4 linked regions of the Homo sapiens genome follow. The protein of the gene in region 3 purifies or fractionates together with the protein of the main gene of each other region. This does not show direct contact. Each region holds a gene or a part of one and is shown on either strand. Other genes may lie near its edges.

Evidence for each region. Proteins that work in one complex are often made in the same cells at the same time.
Region 1: the proteins of SMC3 (region 3) and IVNS1ABP purify together in Homo sapiens (affinity purification with mass spectrometry, with the first as the bait; one large-scale study listed by BioGRID). This does not show direct contact.
Region 2: the proteins of SMC3 (region 3) and RBM10 purify together in Homo sapiens (affinity purification with western blotting; one study listed by BioGRID). This does not show direct contact.
Region 4: the proteins of SMC3 (region 3) and ADAR purify together in Homo sapiens (affinity purification with western blotting; one study listed by BioGRID). This does not show direct contact.

Annotation. Positions count from the first base shown.
Region 1 is NC_000001.11:185,299,492-185,304,374, reverse strand, and holds part of IVNS1ABP (influenza virus NS1A-binding protein), read left to right. Parts: intron 1-2,811; coding exon 2,812-2,941; intron 2,942-3,178; coding exon 3,179-3,403; intron 3,404-3,816; coding exon 3,817-3,938; intron 3,939-4,031; coding exon 4,032-4,158; intron 4,159-4,244; coding exon 4,245-4,376; intron 4,377-4,491; coding exon 4,492-4,665; intron 4,666-4,883. UniProt on the Homo sapiens protein: Involved in many cell functions, including pre-mRNA splicing, the aryl hydrocarbon receptor (AHR) pathway, F-actin organization and protein ubiquitination.
Region 2 is NC_000023.11:47,175,590-47,180,472, reverse strand, and holds part of RBM10 (RNA-binding protein 10), read right to left. Parts: intron 3,974-4,883; coding exon 3,887-3,973; intron 1,371-3,886; coding exon 1,310-1,370; intron 1,155-1,309; coding exon 978-1,154; intron 928-977; exon of another isoform or gene 692-927; intron 594-691; coding exon 433-593; intron 262-432; coding exon 164-261; intron 55-163; coding exon 1-54. UniProt on the Homo sapiens protein: Binds to ssRNA containing the consensus sequence 5'-AGGUAA-3'. May be involved in post-transcriptional processing, most probably in mRNA splicing. Binds to RNA homopolymers, with a preference for poly(G) and poly(U) and little for poly(A).
Region 3 is NC_000010.11:110,573,478-110,578,360, reverse strand, and holds part of SMC3 (structural maintenance of chromosomes protein 3), read right to left. Parts: intron 4,655-4,883; coding exon 4,616-4,654; intron 3,026-4,615; coding exon 2,958-3,025; intron 2,002-2,957; exon of another isoform or gene 1,900-2,001; intron 941-1,899; coding exon 869-940; intron 527-868; coding exon 447-526; intron 1-446. UniProt on the Homo sapiens protein: Central component of cohesin, a complex required for chromosome cohesion during the cell cycle. The cohesin complex may form a large proteinaceous ring within which sister chromatids can be trapped.
Region 4 is NC_000001.11:154,597,435-154,602,317, reverse strand, and holds part of ADAR (double-stranded RNA-specific adenosine deaminase), read left to right. Parts: coding exon 1-1,277; intron 1,278-3,732; coding exon 3,733-3,916; intron 3,917-4,341; coding exon 4,342-4,490; intron 4,491-4,883. UniProt on the Homo sapiens protein: Catalyzes the hydrolytic deamination of adenosine to inosine in double-stranded RNA (dsRNA) referred to as A-to-I RNA editing.

The DNA of each region.
Region 1 (4,883 bases), on a different chromosome or scaffold from region 3:
GAGGATATTTTCCCCCTTAACTCTAAACATTTTGAGTTAACATTTTAAAAGTACATTTTCAACATGCAGAGGTTGAGTGCCCAATAAGTGGCAGGCCATAATGTTCGGTATGGCAACACAAAAATGTGTAAGAGACAGTTTCTGCTTGTAGGACCTTCTAAGAGTGGGCAAAACAATACAGGCTTATAAGAGGTAGCTACGAAAGGCCTAAAGGAGAGGACACAGTGAGACAGGAGAGAAGCCAGGGATATTTCACACAAGAGGTAACTTTTGAGCAGTGTTAGGATTTAGAGGAGTCTGCATAGCAGATAAAGGGAGAGGTGTTAGCAAAGAGTATCTGTGAGGATGATACTCTTGGAATTGCAGGTCATAAGACTGGGAAAGTAGGTAAATGCTCCCTGAATGGGGCTTATACTTTATCCTATAGGCAGTGGGAAGCCTTAGGTAAGAATACAGTGATACGAAAGTTTTGCATTCACTTTAGTAATGGTGAAAAACTGGGGAACAGTCTATTAGGTGGCAGTCTTTGGGCTGGAATATCCCAACTGATTTCTGGTTTTATTTTCTAAAATTGTTGCCTTGGACCCTTCCTATTTTTATAACCAGACACAGAAAATCAATAAAAGTTTGAGCCCAGTTTATAGACTATTGCCAGCAGTAGTTCAGGTTTTAAAAAAATGATGAGGGATTAATCTAGGGGCATGAAGGAGAAAGGATAGATTTTTTATTTATGTCTATATATAAATAGACATTTATATTTACAAAGGTTGACTTAGCAGGCCTTAGTGATTGCTTAGCAAGATTAGGGAAAAGAAAGAATTTGAGAATAAGTGGGATTCTGACATGTGTGACTCATTAGAATGTGATGCCATGAATAGAGATCATGAAGAGGATGCGAGGGACACATGTTAGACTTCAGGAATAGAAAAAGGAGGTTGAGAAGAAGCCATTAGAAAAGTCAGAGGACAATAAGAATCTAATCATGTTGTAAAAGCTACCTAAGGTAGGAGAAGAAAGTTTGAAGGAGGACTAAACACTGTCAAGTTCTCTGGGAGGTCATGTAAAATAAGGTTTAGGGATATATTCTTTACATATAAAGGATTTAATCAGCATTTCTATATTAGGCTTGTTATTAGGCATTGCTTTTGGGCCTTTCTCTTTCACAGTCATTTTCTCTTAATTATAGTTTGTACATTAGAACAGTTTTTTTACTTCAGTACAGCCTCAATGTAAGCATCATCCATTTGTGATATTTGGATCCCTTCTTCCCATAGGTTGGGATGAGGTTTTATGTACCTTGTAATTCATAATAATAGATAAGGTTAGATAAGTCTAACCTTATTTTTTATTCTTAATATTCATAGTATAAAAGTGATATGAAAGATGCATTCACAACTTTAGTAACAGTGGAAAACAGCCTGTCATAGTGTAAATCTGTTTTATAGTATGACATAACTTGTCATAGTATAAAAAGGATGGGGTTTATCTTCATAATTCCTAATCTTTATTTTAGTTGTATTGCCTTGGGCAATGCATATCTTCTTGAGTTTCAATATTTTTATCTATAAAATGGGTAGATAATATCACCCTCACTGGACTAAAAGAGATGATGTAAATAAAGTACCTAGTAATACCTAGGTACATAGTAAACATCTAAGTGGAATTTAATCATAACCATTGATAATGATACATTCCCTGCCTTTTCTCAAAATAGCCTACGTATGTTGTAACCACACTCAGGCCTAACTTTTGATATAGCTTTTTCTTAATAGCTTCAAGTAGCTAGCAAAATCTTTTTCTCAATTACTTGTTATATGGCTTTTTGCTTCCACTAGCAACAGAAATTTCCATTAGAAATTTTACCTATCCATGTGTTCTGGCCATCTGGACCAGCACAAGTGGGATGAGCAAACTAGGCCAGGTGCTGAAGTTGCTACCTGTTCATTTGGCAGTTCCTCTCAGAGTAGTCTTTACTCTTCCAATTCCATATGATCATATCCTTTGGAAGTGGCAAAGGCTAAAGTAATTGGAAGGAAGCCATCAAGGAAAACTCATACATGAGAACACATGTGTAAAGTAGTTCTCTTACAATCATTTGGAAATTGGCAGCTTTGTTCATTTCTCCCTCTTTAGTATTCCTGTATATTCTACTTTTGTGAATATTTGGTTGTTTTTAGTAATGTTTCATTTCTGATTACTATTTTCTTGTGTTTTGATGTAATTTTGTCTAGAAAACCACTCTATAATACCTATAAGGTAATCCTAAAGAAATATTCTTTAAGTGTTTCTTGTAATTGCCACTTTTTTCCTGTCAAGTACTTTCAGAGAAACTGGATGAATCTATATCTGCTTACGTTTTGCTGGCATTGTATGAAGGATACCTGTACATATGATTTAGTTAGGTTTGACAATTTCATGAAAATAGTGGGTTAAATGTATTCTCTGTTAATTCACACTATTTTAAATTTATAGCATTCTTTTAAAAGATTCTATACTTAATATAAAAATAATTATAGATTGGTTTTTTCTTCTGCTGAGGTCTTGATTTGCAACATGTTTTTCAAATTGTTAAAACTGAGCTTTTTCTTACCTAGGCTAATTGTGTAGGCGTAGTTGTCTCATCATTGAGTGGAGATGGAAGTATGCCAGTAATTTGTGTCATTTGGAAAGTGTTGGCTTGAGTTAAAGTTAGTGTCCTATAAATGTCATATATAGGTGAAGGATACTCAGTGTTGTGGAATAGCTCAGGAACAAAGGTACATCAGATGTGGTCTTTGGCTAGGTTTCTGTAGCTACCTTTTGATTTTGCAGAAAAAGCCACCACGTGAGAATGGCCATAAGCAGATAAGTAGCAGTTCAACTGGATGTCTCTCTTCTCCAAATGCTACAGTACAAAGCCCTAAGCATGAGTGGAAAATCGTTGCTTCAGAAAAGACTTCAAGTAAGTATATGACACTTGCCAGATTGTTTTCAGCTTACCTATTTTTAAGAAGGAGTGTTGCCAATTTAATACCTCTTAAATTGACTACTCGAGGAAAAAACTCAGAAGCAATTAAATTTGGAAAACGAGAGCAGATTGTTCCAGTCTGGGATGTGGAGACTGGAGTCCAATTCAGGATCATATACACAAACCAAAAGTAATAATTACATCTTAAACATGGAACTCTTGTGCTTACAGATAACACTTACTTGTGCCTGGCTGTGCTGGATGGTATATTCTGTGTCATTTTTCTTCATGGGAGAAACAGCCCACAGAGCTCACCAACAAGTACTCCAAAACTAAGTAAGAGTTTAAGCTTTGAGATGCAACAAGATGAGCTAATCGAAAAGCCCATGTCTCCTATGCAGTACGCACGATCTGGTCTGGGAACAGCAGAGATGAATGGCAAACTCATAGCTGCAGGTAAGAACAGAAGCATTCAACTGGCTAAGCATGTAGATGGGCATTTTTGTGACATGCAAACTTTCAAAGAGAGGGTTTAATATGCCATCTTTCACGGCAATCCAATAAGATAGGGAAATAACAATACTATTGAATATGGCTAACCTTCAGTTCAATGTCTGTATCTAATTTTTAAAAAAATTATGTCATGGCTAAATTTTTCTAATATTCAAGCCAAGACTAAGCAGTTTATTTGTACTGATAATGCGATTTTTCAGCTATTACAAGCACTTAGTTAAAAGATCAACTAAGGCATCCTTAAAAAGTTTTAATACTTTTTCTCATTGTGCAGATTTCTTAAACTTACAGGACTGGAAACCGTGGTCCAGTTTAATATTTTAAACATAAATCTTTATGGTTTTATTTTTTACCAGGTGGCTATAACAGAGAGGAATGTCTTCGAACAGTCGAATGCTATAATCCACATACAGATCACTGGTCCTTTCTTGCTCCCATGAGAACACCAAGAGCCCGATTTCAAATGGCTGTACTCATGGTAAGCGCATTATGTTGCAGGAGCAACCCCTATTTAGCTTTTTCCTCGTAACTTCAGGATGTTAGAAATTCTCATCTCTCACTTTTGGCATAGGGCCAGCTCTATGTGGTAGGTGGATCAAATGGCCACTCAGATGACCTGAGTTGTGGAGAGATGTATGATTCAAACATAGATGACTGGATTCCTGTTCCAGAATTGAGAACTAACCGTTGTAATGCAGGTAATAATAGTTTTCTCCTGAGATATCCAGTATTTAAATATGATAATTAAATTATCAATATGTAACTTTATTTTATACTTACATAGGAGTGTGTGCTCTGAATGGAAAGTTATACATCGTTGGTGGCTCTGATCCATATGGTCAAAAAGGACTGAAAAATTGTGATGTATTTGATCCTGTAACAAAGTTGTGGACAAGCTGTGCCCCTCTTAACATTCGTAAGTTGATTTTTTTTCCTTTTTTTTTTTAAAGACCTTCAAATCAACAGTATGTGTAGTATACACTTAGAGTCTGGGAGATGTAGCAATAATCTTGACTTGACTTTTCTTGTAGGGAGACACCAGTCTGCAGTCTGTGAGCTTGGTGGTTATTTGTACATAATCGGAGGTGCAGAATCTTGGAATTGTCTGAACACAGTAGAACGATACAATCCTGAAAATAATACCTGGACTTTAATTGCACCCATGAATGTGGCTAGGCGAGGAGCTGGAGTGGCTGTTCTTAATGGTGAGTGTTGGGATTTGGAGAGGTGAAGAGTAGATAGTGGCAAGACTTTGTTCTAAAACTCTGAGAGAAAAGGCCAATGACTATAGTTGTACAGTTAAGAATTCAGAAGCAGTCATCTCTTTTGATGCAATGGAGATTAGGGTGATTTGTCCTTTAGAAATATATTTTCTAATCAAAGACTTATAATACTTGATATATAACTTAATTCACCAGTCTTT
Region 2 (4,883 bases), on a different chromosome or scaffold from region 3:
GTGCTGGCCACAGAGGCAGCACTGATGCGACTGCCTTCATTGGAGGCCATGTCCCTGAGGAGGATGTTAGAGACTGGGAGTGAGATAGGAGGCCCCAAGCGGTAGGGGGGAGTGGGAGGGTGGGGAGGGGAAGGGTGGGAAGGCACACAGGTGGGGCCCTGACCTCTTAGAACCCTTGGCAAACTCAACATTGATGGTCTTGCCGTCGATAGTGAGTGGTGGGTGCAGGGCCTGCAGGATCTGCAGCAGCTGGGCTGCCTCCTGTGGGAGGAGGGGAGGCAGGGACAGAAGGGTCAGGCCCGGGGAGGCCCCCGGCTCCATTGCCCGATTTCCAGGCTGGCAGCCGCGGTGGGAGGCTGGGGAAAAGGACCCTCGTCTCCACCCCGGGGGCCGGGACCCTGGCTGCCCGGCCCCCAACTGTGCCGCCCTCACCACGATGGTGGAGAGCTGGATGAAGGCAAAGCCGCGGTTCAGTTGGGTCTGCTTGTCCTTTATGACGCGCACGTTGGAGGAGGACAGCACCGCGTAGGGTGCCAGGGCCCCCAGGATGGAATCCATGGTGCTGTGTGGGTTCAGGTTGCGCAAAATGATGGCTGTGGGAAGGGGCCCAATGTTAGAGGACACCCCTGGCACTCTTGCCAGCCCTGCCCTTCAATGCCCCCACTGCTCCCTTTCCTCTGCCCCCACTCACTCCGTGCCTTTGCAACTGCCGCTTCCCTCACTGCTTCCTCCAGGATCAACTCTGCTTGGCGGTCCAGGTGCCAGCCTGGCTGCCTGTCTGCTGAGAACCTTCCCGACACACCCCCAAAGTCAGGTGGGATGTTGCCACTCCCCCTGTTCTCCCTACATCAAATGTCTATCCCCGCACCAAGTGGAGATTCCATGAGGATGAGGTCCTGCTCACTGCCATTTCTCTGGTCTTGGTGAGCCCAGCCCGACACCCTAGGGCACAGAGGAAGAAGGAACAACTGACTCACTGTCATTGGCGTTCTCTGAGCTTGGCTCCGAGCCCTGTGACAGGGCTTGGGAGGCCAGGACTCCCTGGGCCTGGTAGGGCTGCGGCAGGGGAAGCAGGCCCTGGCTCAGCTCCCGGCCACCCAGTGGCAGTGTCTGCTGATCCAGCCTCGTGCCGAGGGGCAGCTTCTGCTCTGCCTCTGTCAGGGGCAGTGGGAGACAGGCTGGTGATAAGGGGAAGGCTCCACGACTGGTCACCCTCCTCCCTATACCAAGCCCTGAGCACAGACCCCTCACCCTTCCCTTCTCCCCAACCGCTCCGCCCTGGAGAGCACGAGAGGTAGGTGGGCCTCACCTGACTTGGGCACGCCACATTTGAAGCACTTCTCTCGGCGTTTGAAGTTCTGGACGCCACACTGTGAGGCACAGGCCAGGCCGTCAGAGGGAGCAGGGATTTCCCACTGCACCCTCCAAACTTGGATGAAGAGATCTCCCAGGGACCCCGCAGTGCCCCAGGAAGGAAAGCCCCTAGGCAATGGTGGCAGGTGCCTTCTGAACCTTCTGATGTTGTTCTCAGTACTGTGCATCTTCCCTTTCCAGACTCTCATTTGTCCTCTGTGCCAACCCACTCAGCTCAGGAATAAACAACTCCCCCATTTGGTACAACAACTCCCTCCTCTCCTTCCTCTGCCTTCTTAAGGCCACCAACTCCCAGGACTGTTCCCCGCCTCAGGTATTCAATCCCTTTATTAGGTTCCTCTCCCTGAAACTTGCTCCTCTATTCAGAAACCTTTCAGTGTTTCAGCCCTAGAAGTCAGTAGCCAGACCCGCACCCCTCCTCTTAGCTCTAGGACTGGGTTGGATCCTGCTACGCTTGAGAAATTTTCCTTGAATGTTCCAGCATCTGGAGACCCAGCTTCTACCACACTCCATCTCTGTTCCAGACTCAGGTACTAAGCACCACTCCTGGGCCAGGCCCTGCTGCACATGGCCAGAACATGGTCTCTGCCCTCATGGCCTAATAGCACAGGGGCAGATGCAGCATGAAGAGGGGCAGGTCGGTCTGCATGGACCATCCAGCAGGGGCTCGGGGAGGGAAATGGGCTGGGGGTGGGGTGCCATTTACTCGGCAGGGACAGTCCCTGCACAGAAGCAGGGAGGTTTGACCTGGGATGCCCAGAAGTTTCATTTTGTTAAGCCTTGCTGGGGAGGGATTGTTATCGGAGGGAACAATGGACTTTCCGAAACTGGTGTGGGAGAGTAAGGGGAGAAGCAAAAGCCAAGGCCGGGGAAGGAAGCCAGTTAGGTAATGGAGGATCTTATGCTTAAGCTGAGCTGGGGCTGGTTAAGCAGAGGAGGAGAGGCGTGGGTAGTCAGAGGTGGTTTTGAGGAATGTTCCAGGTGAGGGCGTGGGAGAAAGAGGACAAGAGGCCAGCATACCAGAGAGGGCTCCACAGTGAGTGGGTGAGAGCGTGACGATTGGCATGAGCAGCGGGAATGGCGAGGGAGGGAAGGTGGCGTTTCTGTGATGGAAGTGACAGGACCTGGTGGCCAACAGGATGCAGGGGAGGGGAAGGAGTTCAAGAGAATTCCCTGGTTTTGGGCTGGGCGTGGTGGCTCACGCCTGTAATCCCAGCACTTTGGGAGGCTGAGGCGTGAGGACTGCTTGAGCTCAGGAGTTCAAGACCAGCCTGGCAAACATGACGAAACCCTGTCTCTACCAAAAAAAATAAAAATAAAAAGGCAAAAATTAGTGGGTGTGGTGGCATGCGCCTGTGGTCCCAGCTACTCTGGAGGCTGATGGCTTGAGCGCTGGAGACAGAGGTTGCAGTGAGCCCAGATTGCTGCACTCCAGCCTGGGCGACAGAGCCAGATCCTGTCTCAAAAAAAAAAAAAAGAGAATTCCCTGGTTTTGAGGCTATCTGGAAACACAGGAAGGAGTTCCACTGTCACTTTGTCTTTATCTCTCCAGAAATGTTAAGCACCAATCCTCTGATGGGACTTTTTTTTTTAAAACAGATGCACCACTCTCCCTGACTAGGCAGAGTACTTCCTGGGGAGAGGGTTGGGGCCTCTACAAACTGTGGAATCACAATGCTGGCCCCAGGGCAGACCTGAAGCCACTGTGGCATCCAAGTCCCTGTGATCAGGAGCAAGGCACAGGGCACAGCTAAAGGTTCACCCATGGTTCCACCTCTCTGAGCCTCAGCTTCCCCTCAGGGAAGACAGAGGTGACTACAAAACCACAGCCTCCAGTTTCAGGTTTGACTTGGCCTGGTCAGAGTGGCCTTCAGGCTTGAGCTACCTGCTATGGGCTCTCAGAACGCTCTGTGCTTTTCTTTCATGATTACAGTTAACAATTCGACTGTGTTAAATGTGGGCCAGGCACTGTTCTGAGTGTTACTCTCTCATTAACACAGCTGAATCCTCCCAACCACCTTTTGGGAGAGGTGTCATTAATATTCACATTTTAGAGATGGGGAAAGTGAGGCAAAGAGAGGCTAAGCACCTTGGCCAAAATCAAGGCCGATCTGGGATAGTCTCATTTCAGCCAGTCTGGCTCTGAAGCCCACATTCTCCACACCACCACTTCAAGTCTACACTGTCACTAATTCATCATCCACGTATATATTTCCTTAAAGTCTACTGGAACTCCAGGCAAGACTGCATTTTAGGAGGACAGAGCCTGCACCAAGTGAACGCTCACTACACATTTGTATATGGCTGGCTAGGAATGGTGACTACTCAAGCTGAGCTAGCAAGGGATAGAGAATGAGAGAGAGAGAGAGAGAGAGAGAGAGAGACAGAGGGAGAGGAGAGATTGGGGGAGGGGGAGAGATGGAGGGAGAAAGAGCGGGAGAGGAAGGGAGAGATCGCCGCCACTGCTGTTGCTGTCTCTGTCCATGACAACTGCTGCCCACCGCCCCTGTACCTTATTGCACAGCCAGTCCTCATTGATCTTGGGCTTGGGGTCACTGTAGTGCATCGACACCTTCTGGCCCAGGATGTTGAGGGAGTGCTGCGGGAAAAAGCAGAGCACAGTGAGGTCCAGGCAGCAGTGCCCCACGCACCGTTTCAGCATAGGAGAAGAGAGTGAGCGAGCCCTTCAGCTGGATGGATGAGGGACAGGGAACGGAGGGAGGTCGGAGAGCGGATGGAGGGAAGAAGGGAGGTAGGGAGGGAAAGCGCCACAGCTCTCGGGCGCAGCTGTTTGCTGCTCTGCCGGGCACACGCACGCACACATGTGAACACACACCACCAGGCACACAGTGTTCGGCTGACCGACGCTTGCCGGACAGTGGGGAGAAACCCCCACTCGGCCCTGACACTGCCAGGCCACACCCAGGGCCAGGACTACACAGGCTACACTTGGGGGGTGAGGGGAGACAGGGAGGGGGAGGGAGAGGGGAGAAAAAGAGAAAGAGAGCGCAGGTGCGCTAGTGCTGGAGAAGGGGAAAAAGAAAGAGCCATTTCGAACAGATGGAAGTTTCTGCCATGAGGCCGTCTTCCCATGGATGGCTGGGTCCTGGGCCCATGGCACTAGCCTACCAACCCCGAGGAGACGGCCCCAGGGCTGCCTCTGCCGGGATCCCCCATTCTACCACCTCTGCCCCTTCCTCCCCTGAAACTGCTCTCCAGTGCCCTACACCAGGGATCTGGGCAGGGGTGGGTGACCAGGCAGATCTTTGGGTCTCGGAGGTCCCAAAGCTGCTGAGTTGGGATCCCGTGCCAGGCTTGGGGGACAGGCTCCCCCCAGGGCTGACTGTGCACAGGTCCTTGCCGAGAAGACAGAGCTGCCTGAGGTGGTGCCTCCTGCGAGTGTGGAGATGTGATAGGAAGGGTAGGGGCGGCGAAGTGAGGCCAGGGTGTCGATAAAACTATCATACTCGACGGGAACTTGAGATCAACAGAGCAGTGCTGTCCCCTTG
Region 3 (4,883 bases):
AGTGGCTCATGCCTCTAATCCCAGCACTTTGGGAGGCCAAGGCAGGCAGATCACAAGGTCAAGAGTTCGAGACCAGCCTGCCAACATGGTGAAACCCCGTCTCTACTAAGAATACAAAAAGTAGCCGGGTGTGGTGGTGACTGCCTGCAATCCCAGCTACTCAGAAGGCTGAGGCAGCAGAATAGCTTGAACCCGGGAGGTGGAGGTTGCAGTGAGCCGAGACTGCGCCACTGCACTCCAGCCTGGGCGACAGAGCAAGACTCCGTATTGAGAAAAAGAAAAATGCTGGCTGGGCGTGGTGGCTCATGTCTGTAATCCTAGCACTTTAGGAAGCCGAGGTGGATCATTTGAGGCCAAGAGTTCGAGACCAACCTGGCCAACACAGCAATACCCCATCTCTATTTAAGTACATATTCAGTTTTTTTAAAAAAAAGAAAAATGCTTACGTGACCATCTTCTTGTCTAAGAAATACTGATCCTTTTTGGCACCAATAACTCTTCGAAGTGAAACTTCCTCTTTATCGATCTAAGAAAAAATGTAAAAGCCCACAGTTAATTTAATAGTAAAGGAGAAAACTTTTTAAATAAGGTCATTTTAAAGTCCTTGCCCATAAGTATTTATTTTAAAATTTCAATTATCTCACTAAAAATAATACTACAAATACTCAATACTCTTAACCAAGACACTTTTCACAACAGTTTGTACATTCCCATTTGTTAACAGAGTATTCATTGTCATTTTAAGATAAAATCAGTATATAAACTGTAATTATAACAAATTATAAAAGCTTAAAAAGTTTCAAAGTATGAAGAAAATCAGCTAAACCAATTAAATTCTCAACATTACTTTAAAAAAAAAGTTACTTACTGGTAACCGGTTGTCTGAATTATCAAAAATAATCTCCACAAAAGCAGAAATAACACGAGGACCAGTACCTTCCTAAAAATGAAAGAAGTGAGAAATTTGCCATTTAAGTTGTATATTCATATCCTTTAAAGGATTCTTAAAGTCTAGGGCATAATAACAAGTCTGATTCAATGGAGAAAAATTTCTGCTAGATTCATATATACACACACACACTAATCTAACGTCTCTGCTCTTTTGGCAAGAGGGATACATACTTTGGGGATATCCCCAGAGTTATAGTATATATCCCTCTTGCCAAAACAGCAGAGACGTTAGATTAGGACAACAAAACTTCTCAACCAAATAGCTTTTGATTCTAAATAAAAAATAAGAGCTATGCAAGACATGTCAAAGTTAGATATCCTTAAATATGATTCTACAGACCACTTTATTAGACTGCAAGACTGGGGACATTTAACTCTACCTATTTGCTAATATCTAATACACCATGAGGCTTTTCTCTTACAGTCTCATTTTAATGCTGCAAAGAAATCCTAATAAATCATGGGATAATTACCAAAAGTCTGTTTTTTAAGAAAAATTGAGACATTCTACAGTTTTAAATCTATTATAGAAATATACACATTTAACATGTGTCACATTTAAACCAATCTATGACACAAAAACTATGGTACCAAGTCCAGATACCTTCCAGATTATAGAAACTATGTAGTAAATACAATGAAGAACTGTACCAAAGAGGTTATTAATTATTTTAATGCCAATCTGAAAAACCTAAAAAGAATTTTTCTAAAGGAAATCAATTCTGATTACTGGGCTACAAATTCAAACTAAACAAGGGGAAAAGACAGACAAGAGCTAAACAAAACAATTTCCTATGTGTGAGAAACACTGTTAAGACATGTTGAGGAATTTCATTTTCTAGTCTTTAATAAACAATATTCAAATCAGAAGGATTAATCGTTTTATTGTAGTCTTTCATGATTTTCTATCCTAAAATTACTTTAGTCCATTACTCATATTTTTTTCCACATCACATTGGTAATGTGCCAATGTCCTAACAAGGTTTGAGGGAGGCATGACTCACATGAACACGAAAACCCAATCATCGTGCTTATGCATTACAAAAGGACCCACTTAATAAAATATCCTAACTCACATTACTGTAAATATACAGGTGGTCCCCAACTTACGATGGTTCAACAAATGGCTGAATGACAACGTGATAGCAGTCTACATTCAGTAGAAACCATAATTTGAGTATCCATAAAATCACTGTTTTTTACTTTCAGCATAGTATTCAATAAATTATATGACAGATTCAACACTTTATTATAAAACAGACTTTTGTGTTAGATCATTTTGCTCAACTGTAGGCTAATGTCCATTTTTGACTTATGGTATTTTCAGTTTATGATAGGTTTATTAGGACATAACCCCGCTGTAAGTTGCAGAACATCTCTACTGTTTTTCATACTGGAAAATGATGTTTACTATCTAAGTACAAATATGGCTAAAACAACAAACAACTTGTATGTTGTTTAGTTTGCAATGGTTGTTTCTCTATGTTCCCAATTAATTTTTGGTTCTGCATCTTAAAGTTCCTAATCTGCAACCTCAAACTCTTCTTTCTCCTCAGCAAACCTGCTTCTTAAGCCTTTGCAGATCACATCCTTAAAGAAATGTACATGGAGGACATACCCACCTATAGGCAAATCCTATAATTTTCTCCTAACCATCACATAAAAATTAGGCCTTTATCTGGCATTAACATGTTAGGCTAAATTTCACAGCAGAATAAAACACTTATGATATATATCATGTCTCCTTTAAGACATTTATATGGAGGACATATCCATCTATAGGCAAATCCTATAATTTTCTCCTAAACCACTGTATAAAAATTGGGCTTTTATCTGGCATTAATATGTTAGGCTAAATTTCACAGCAGAGTAACACACTTATGAGAAAGATTGTGTCTTGTTCACAAAGAATCTGAAACTTGAACAAATGCTTTTTTAACCAGCATGGAAAATTTATTTTTAAAATATATGTAATATCAATAATGTCTTAAAGCAGTCTCACTCACATGCAATAAAGCCAACCGCTGTTCTGGACGAAGATGACTAAACTCATCACTGAGAACAAACTGAATTGCTGGAAATACAAAAACAACTATTAGTATACCCTAAAAAAGTGTTTATAACTTATTTATAACTTCCCACACCTCAATAGAACATAGTGTGTCTGGTAATAGACAATGCAAATAAATTATCTGTTTCATATGGACAAAAGGAAATGCAGAAAATGTGCCTGCACATCAGACTAATCAGGTAGGAAATGATATAAGAAAAATACTGAGAAGTTTTCATTGAAACATTTAAGGTAAGGAAATAAAGAGAAACCACCGAAATACATGAAAACAGACAAGCAAAACTAAGGTATACCTCTGGCTCAAAGTGTTCACTGACTGGATTAGGTTAACACTGTATTTGCTTTTTTCCCCACTAGACATAAATGATATGAGTTAAAATCCTTTTTAACAAAATAGGATGTATTTTGAGAATATGCTTAAGTGGATACTTTACCAAAAGAAATAAAACTAAGGAAATACAGGGAAATGTTTGAGATGCCCAACTTATACTACACTTCTTATACTATACCGAGCTCTGTAAGAAGGGGCCGTTCCTACTTCGGTATAGAGTACCTAACTGGACCACCCTGCCTAGGAAGTGGAACTCTTTACTCAGCTGTTCTTGTCCCAGTCCACCCAAGAGACCTCTGGCACTGTGTGTGTGTGGAGGTGGTGGGGGTGCCCACATCAGCAAGTACGTGCATAAGCATTAATGTGTGTGCTGTGGACACAGGTCGAGGTGAGGAGACTTCACACTGCCCTGGAGATTCTGAAATACTTCCACTTCAGTCCATTCTCTCATCATTGCCAAATTACAACCACAATAGGATATACAGGCTAGAGAGTGCCTTTCAGATTCGTGTGCACAGAAGAGATAGAACCTTTGTTCTTACTAAGCCAGTCCACTAAATGCCCCTTTCCCTCAAGCATTACCCAACTAAAAAGTTCAAATTTTTCAACCTACTCCTTAACTGTCTAATTTTGTTAAAATGTTTTTCTCCTCAAAGGATTTGTTAACAGACGCATTGCTATTTACACTTAAATGCAATTTAGAGAGAATTTTTGAAGCTCTATTTACTATCTTCAAAGTGACAACAGTCTGTTCAGTTTCAAGTTTTTTATACCTCTTCATCCTTTACAAAGATGATTGGTTTAGAAAACGTTTTCAAAAAGGTGAAATAAGAAAGATGAACAATTTTCCAAAACAATACTATCAACTATTCTACTGCATTTACATACGTTTAAAATATGCATTTATAACATTTATATATTACATTCAAGTTTAAAAAGCATTTTCATACATACTATTGCATTCCATTCTTACAAACCATCTAAGGTAGACAGGGCAAACATCCAAACATCTCCATTTTTAAAGTGAAAAGAAAAATTTGAGAGGCTACGTGTTTTGCCCACTCTCACACAGCTAATCAGCCACTGGGTATAAAGCAGAATTCAGATCTGTATACTCTAAACCCTCTACACTAAGCTGCAACCCCATATAAAGTATTTCTTGGGTTTCATGAATACATAACCTCAGAAAATTAATGATTTTAATAATCTACCCTAAGATACCCAGGTCTTAATATATTTACAATTCAAAAAGCAACACCTACCATAAAAAAAGTTACTTTTTCCAGATCCATTTCTGCCCACTGGAAAATTTCAAAAAGTACAAGTTATTTTACATAAAAACCAATAAAATTAAAACTGTTTACCTTTTTAAAAATACTCAATATTTTTAAAATCCAATTTTCTAATACATCTTAACATCTGAAATTAAACAGTGAACAAAAGAAACCAATAAAACAACTATAATCACCAAATAAATTCAATTTTTGTACAGACTTCTAATAGTTTTTTCTTTAAAGATATTTCACAGTT
Region 4 (4,883 bases), on a different chromosome or scaffold from region 3:
CAGCATCCTTCACCACGTGGCAGGAGTCTGCCACAGAGAGGTGTTGATTGCCTTTCCTCACATTTCCAGGAACTGAGTATCTACCAAGATCAGGAACAAAGGATCTTAAAGTTCCTGGAAGAGCTTGGGGAAGGGAAGGCCACCACAGCACATGATCTGTCTGGGAAACTTGGGACTCCGAAGAAAGAAATCAATCGAGTTTTATACTCCCTGGCAAAGAAGGGCAAGCTACAGAAAGAGGCAGGAACACCCCCTTTGTGGAAAATCGCGGTCTCCACTCAGGCTTGGAACCAGCACAGCGGAGTGGTAAGACCAGACGGTCATAGCCAAGGAGCCCCAAACTCAGACCCGAGTTTGGAACCGGAAGACAGAAACTCCACATCTGTCTCAGAAGATCTTCTTGAGCCTTTTATTGCAGTCTCAGCTCAGGCTTGGAACCAGCACAGCGGAGTGGTAAGACCAGACAGTCATAGCCAAGGATCCCCAAACTCAGACCCAGGTTTGGAACCTGAAGACAGCAACTCCACATCTGCCTTGGAAGATCCTCTTGAGTTTTTAGACATGGCCGAGATCAAGGAGAAAATCTGCGACTATCTCTTCAATGTGTCTGACTCCTCTGCCCTGAATTTGGCTAAAAATATTGGCCTTACCAAGGCCCGAGATATAAATGCTGTGCTAATTGACATGGAAAGGCAGGGGGATGTCTATAGACAAGGGACAACCCCTCCCATATGGCATTTGACAGACAAGAAGCGAGAGAGGATGCAAATCAAGAGAAATACGAACAGTGTTCCTGAAACCGCTCCAGCTGCAATCCCTGAGACCAAAAGAAACGCAGAGTTCCTCACCTGTAATATACCCACATCAAATGCCTCAAATAACATGGTAACCACAGAAAAAGTGGAGAATGGGCAGGAACCTGTCATAAAGTTAGAAAACAGGCAAGAGGCCAGACCAGAACCAGCAAGACTGAAACCACCTGTTCATTACAATGGCCCCTCAAAAGCAGGGTATGTTGACTTTGAAAATGGCCAGTGGGCCACAGATGACATCCCAGATGACTTGAATAGTATCCGCGCAGCACCAGGTGAGTTTCGAGCCATCATGGAGATGCCCTCCTTCTACAGTCATGGCTTGCCACGGTGTTCACCCTACAAGAAACTGACAGAGTGCCAGCTGAAGAACCCCATCAGCGGGCTGTTAGAATATGCCCAGTTCGCTAGTCAAACCTGTGAGTTCAACATGATAGAGCAGAGTGGACCACCCCATGAACCTCGGTAAGAGACCACCCAGGAACTGTACCTAGGGTTGGGGTCAGGTGCTTTTGCTCCTGACGCAGTCTTGGCTGATTTGTGAGCAGTGCTGTTTGGTGGCGCCTATCTTTTCCTCCTTCCCTTCTGCCTTTTAGCTAAATTCCCCTTGATTGGCCCTTTCTCCAGATATTGAGCAGGGAATATAGACCTTGGACCAGCCAGAATCTTGGCTGAACAAGGGGGAGGTTGACTCTGTTGGCTGTAATGAAGCTTCTTTAGAAATGATTGGTTTTGGCCGTACGCGGTGGCTCATGCCTGTAATCCCAGCACTTTTTGAGGCCGAGGCAGGCATATCACGAGGTCAGGAGTTTGAGACCAGCCTGGCCAACATGGTGAAACCCTGTCTCTACTAAAAATACAAAAATTAGCTGGGCGTGGTGGCGTGCACCTGTAGTCCCAGCTACTCAGGAAGCTGAGACAGGAGAATCACTTGAACCCAGGAGGCAGAGGTTGCAGTGAACTGAGATTGCGCCACTGCACTCCAGCCTGGGCCACAGAGCAAGACTCCATCTCAAAAAAAAAAAAGAAAGAAATGATTGGTCTTGGGGGCCGGGGCGGTGGCTTACGACTGTAATCCCAGCACTTTGGGAGGCCAAGGCAGGCAGATCATGAGGTGAGGAATTCGAGACCAGCCTGGCCAACATGGTGAAACCCCATCTCTACTAAAAATACAAAAATTAGCTGGGGGTGGTGGTGCTTGCCTGTAATCCCAGCTACTCGGGAGGCTGAGGCAGGAGAATCACTTGAACCCAGGAGGTGGAGGTTGTAGTGAGCCGAGATTGGCGCCACTGCACTCCAGCCTGGGCGACAGAGTGAGACTCCATCTTGGAAAAAGAAAGAAAAAAGAAAAACATGATTGATCTCCATGCATCAATATCATGCCTGCCTCCTAAGGCAGAGGTAATGAAGACTTAATTCCCTTCTGTAGGCCTTCCCCTCCTCCCTAAGCCGTTTTCTGAGAGAGGTGCAGGAGCAGGTGGGTTGGGGCAGGCTGCATACACAGTGGGGGTGGGTTGTGCTGCTAAGCAGCAGCAGGTCCACAATCCCCCCTCTGCATAGCTCCTGGGGGGAAAGGATGGAGGAGCGTGTGCACGGCTGCCTGCCTGTTGAAGGTGGTGGTTCTAATTTTATAAACCTCCTCTGCACAGATGGGTAGGCTAGCACTTGCTGCCACTCCTGAGCTGTGAAGTCAGCCTTTACCTCACTCAGATAGCTGGTCAGGCCCTGCACTGTAGGTCCTAATAGGCCAGTGGACAGATTGAGGAAAACAGGAGCTTCTGAAGGGCATAACAGAGAGCAAAACCACTGAAGCTGAGTGGCTGCAGCTGCAGCCAGGGAAAGAGCCAGTAGGATGGGGGAGAATTCCACTGACCTTTATGTTTACCTAGCCTGGTTTCTAGGGGTGTAGATTCCTGGCTAGGGCCCTTATTCCTTGTCTTGACTGTCTTCATGACACCAATTTGGCATTTCAGGAGAGCGGTTAAGAAAAGGAGTTGTGTCTGTCCAAAAGCTGGCAAGGCCAGAGCTGGATTGTTTGGGGTAGAGACTGGATGGCCGTCATTCTCTTTTGCCTCCATCCCTCCTCCCCAGAGTTGGAGGAAAGCAGTGGATTTTGTGGTTAGTCATTCTTTGGACTCACACTAAAAGAAACATTGGTGCCATGTTCAAATATATCAGAAGACCTAGGAAATAAGAAATTTGACCTACTTTTCTAAATGAAATCCCAGACTGAGCAAAGAGCTCACCACATTTGAAAGCTTGAACAAAGGGGGCCTAGGCTAAGTCCAGAGGCCTAGAACAAATGCTTTTTTATTTTCTACATAACAAGGGGAAATTCCTTGTTATGTAGAAAATAGCTGGAGACAAATGGTGCTATAGAGTGACTCATAACAAACTACGGTGATATAGGTCTAGGGACAAAAGCAGGCCACTGATAAGTGGCAGATGCCTGATCCCCCTAGGTAGTGGGGAGTGTGAGACTGGGTTATAAGAAGCCTTCACTATCTTTTAGGACCCTCCCTTGAGGAGGCCAGTCTACCACAATTGCTTTAGAATGAAGGTCTTTTGGTTGCTCACAAGACTATAATGGTAATTTTTGGCTCATCATTTTTGTGTGTGTGGGTTTTATCTTAATTCATTGTTAAAGAGATAGTGGGTTTCCCCTGAGCTAGTTTCCTATCATCTGTGCCTATGTTTGCTTCACTGAGCTATGGGGAAAGAGTCACTGGCTGCTTTGTTTACAAAAAGAAAGGACAGGCTGAGCCTTAAGGAGTAGGAAGGAGTTCCTTGGCCTACCCTTCATCTCCACAAGTGAAAAGCCCCTTAGCGTAGCAGAAAATTCCAGGTTGAAGGTCTCTTTGGAGAAGGCAGAAGGAGTGACCTAGACTCCTGTTCACACATCTAATCACTTTCCGTCAAGATTTAAATTCCAGGTTGTCATCAATGGCCGAGAGTTTCCCCCAGCTGAAGCTGGAAGCAAGAAAGTGGCCAAGCAGGATGCAGCTATGAAAGCCATGACAATTCTGCTAGAGGAAGCCAAAGCCAAGGACAGTGGAAAATCAGAAGAATCATCCCACTATTCCACAGAGAAAGAATCAGAGAAGGTAGGTGTCCTCCTGCCATCTGGGAGGATCAGTTCCCTGTCAGTGTCTGGATTGTAACTGACTCCCTTGAGGCAATCCCAGCCTAAACAACTGACACCATCTCGGAGTCAGCTTCCCACTCTTCCCTCTACCCTATCTCGCCAGCCCACCTTTCCTCCTCTCATACCCAGCTCCTCTGTCTGCTCCTGTCCCAACATAATTGGATTTACAGAATTTCGGACTTGAAAGAGACCTGAAAGTTTATTGAGGCCAATCTCCTCTCTTGGAAGATGCGGAATGAGAGCTCCAGCAGCCCCTTTAACTTTGGGAAGCCAACCCCTTGACAGGTGGTGGGAATAAAGTCCCCCATCCCCATCCCTTCTTCTGTGATGGACTAACCAGTGTTTTCTTAGTTTTGTTTTCTTCTTGTCTCTCATTTTCTCTAGACTGCAGAGTCCCAGACCCCCACCCCTTCAGCCACATCCTTCTTTTCTGGGAAGAGCCCCGTCACCACACTGCTTGAGTGTATGCACAAATTGGGGAACTCCTGCGAATTCCGTCTCCTGTCCAAAGAAGGCCCTGCCCATGAACCCAAGTATGTCCTACGTGTCCTCTGTCCAGCTGAGGTTTTCTCAGAAAGAAAAAGAGACACATTTTCTTCCTTGCCTCCTCAGGGATGGCAGATTGACCAATTTCTCCTGTTTCAAAATGGGGAAAGGAGGGCTCTGAGGTCCTGGTTGCTGCTTGTGAGGCAGACAATTAGGGATTAGGAATTCAAAGGGAATTCCTGGCCCACCCTCTATCTCCTCTATAAGCACTAGGGAGGTTCACGGCTTGGAGGTCACTCACTGTTGGTGGGACAGAAAGGTACAGGACCTGAGAAGCTCTCTGCCTGTGGGTCTATAGACTCACATGTTCAAGAGAAGTGTTCCTGGAAGAGGTGAAACTAGGTTGATGCTTAAATGTTGAAAGGGGTCAGCCAGGCTAA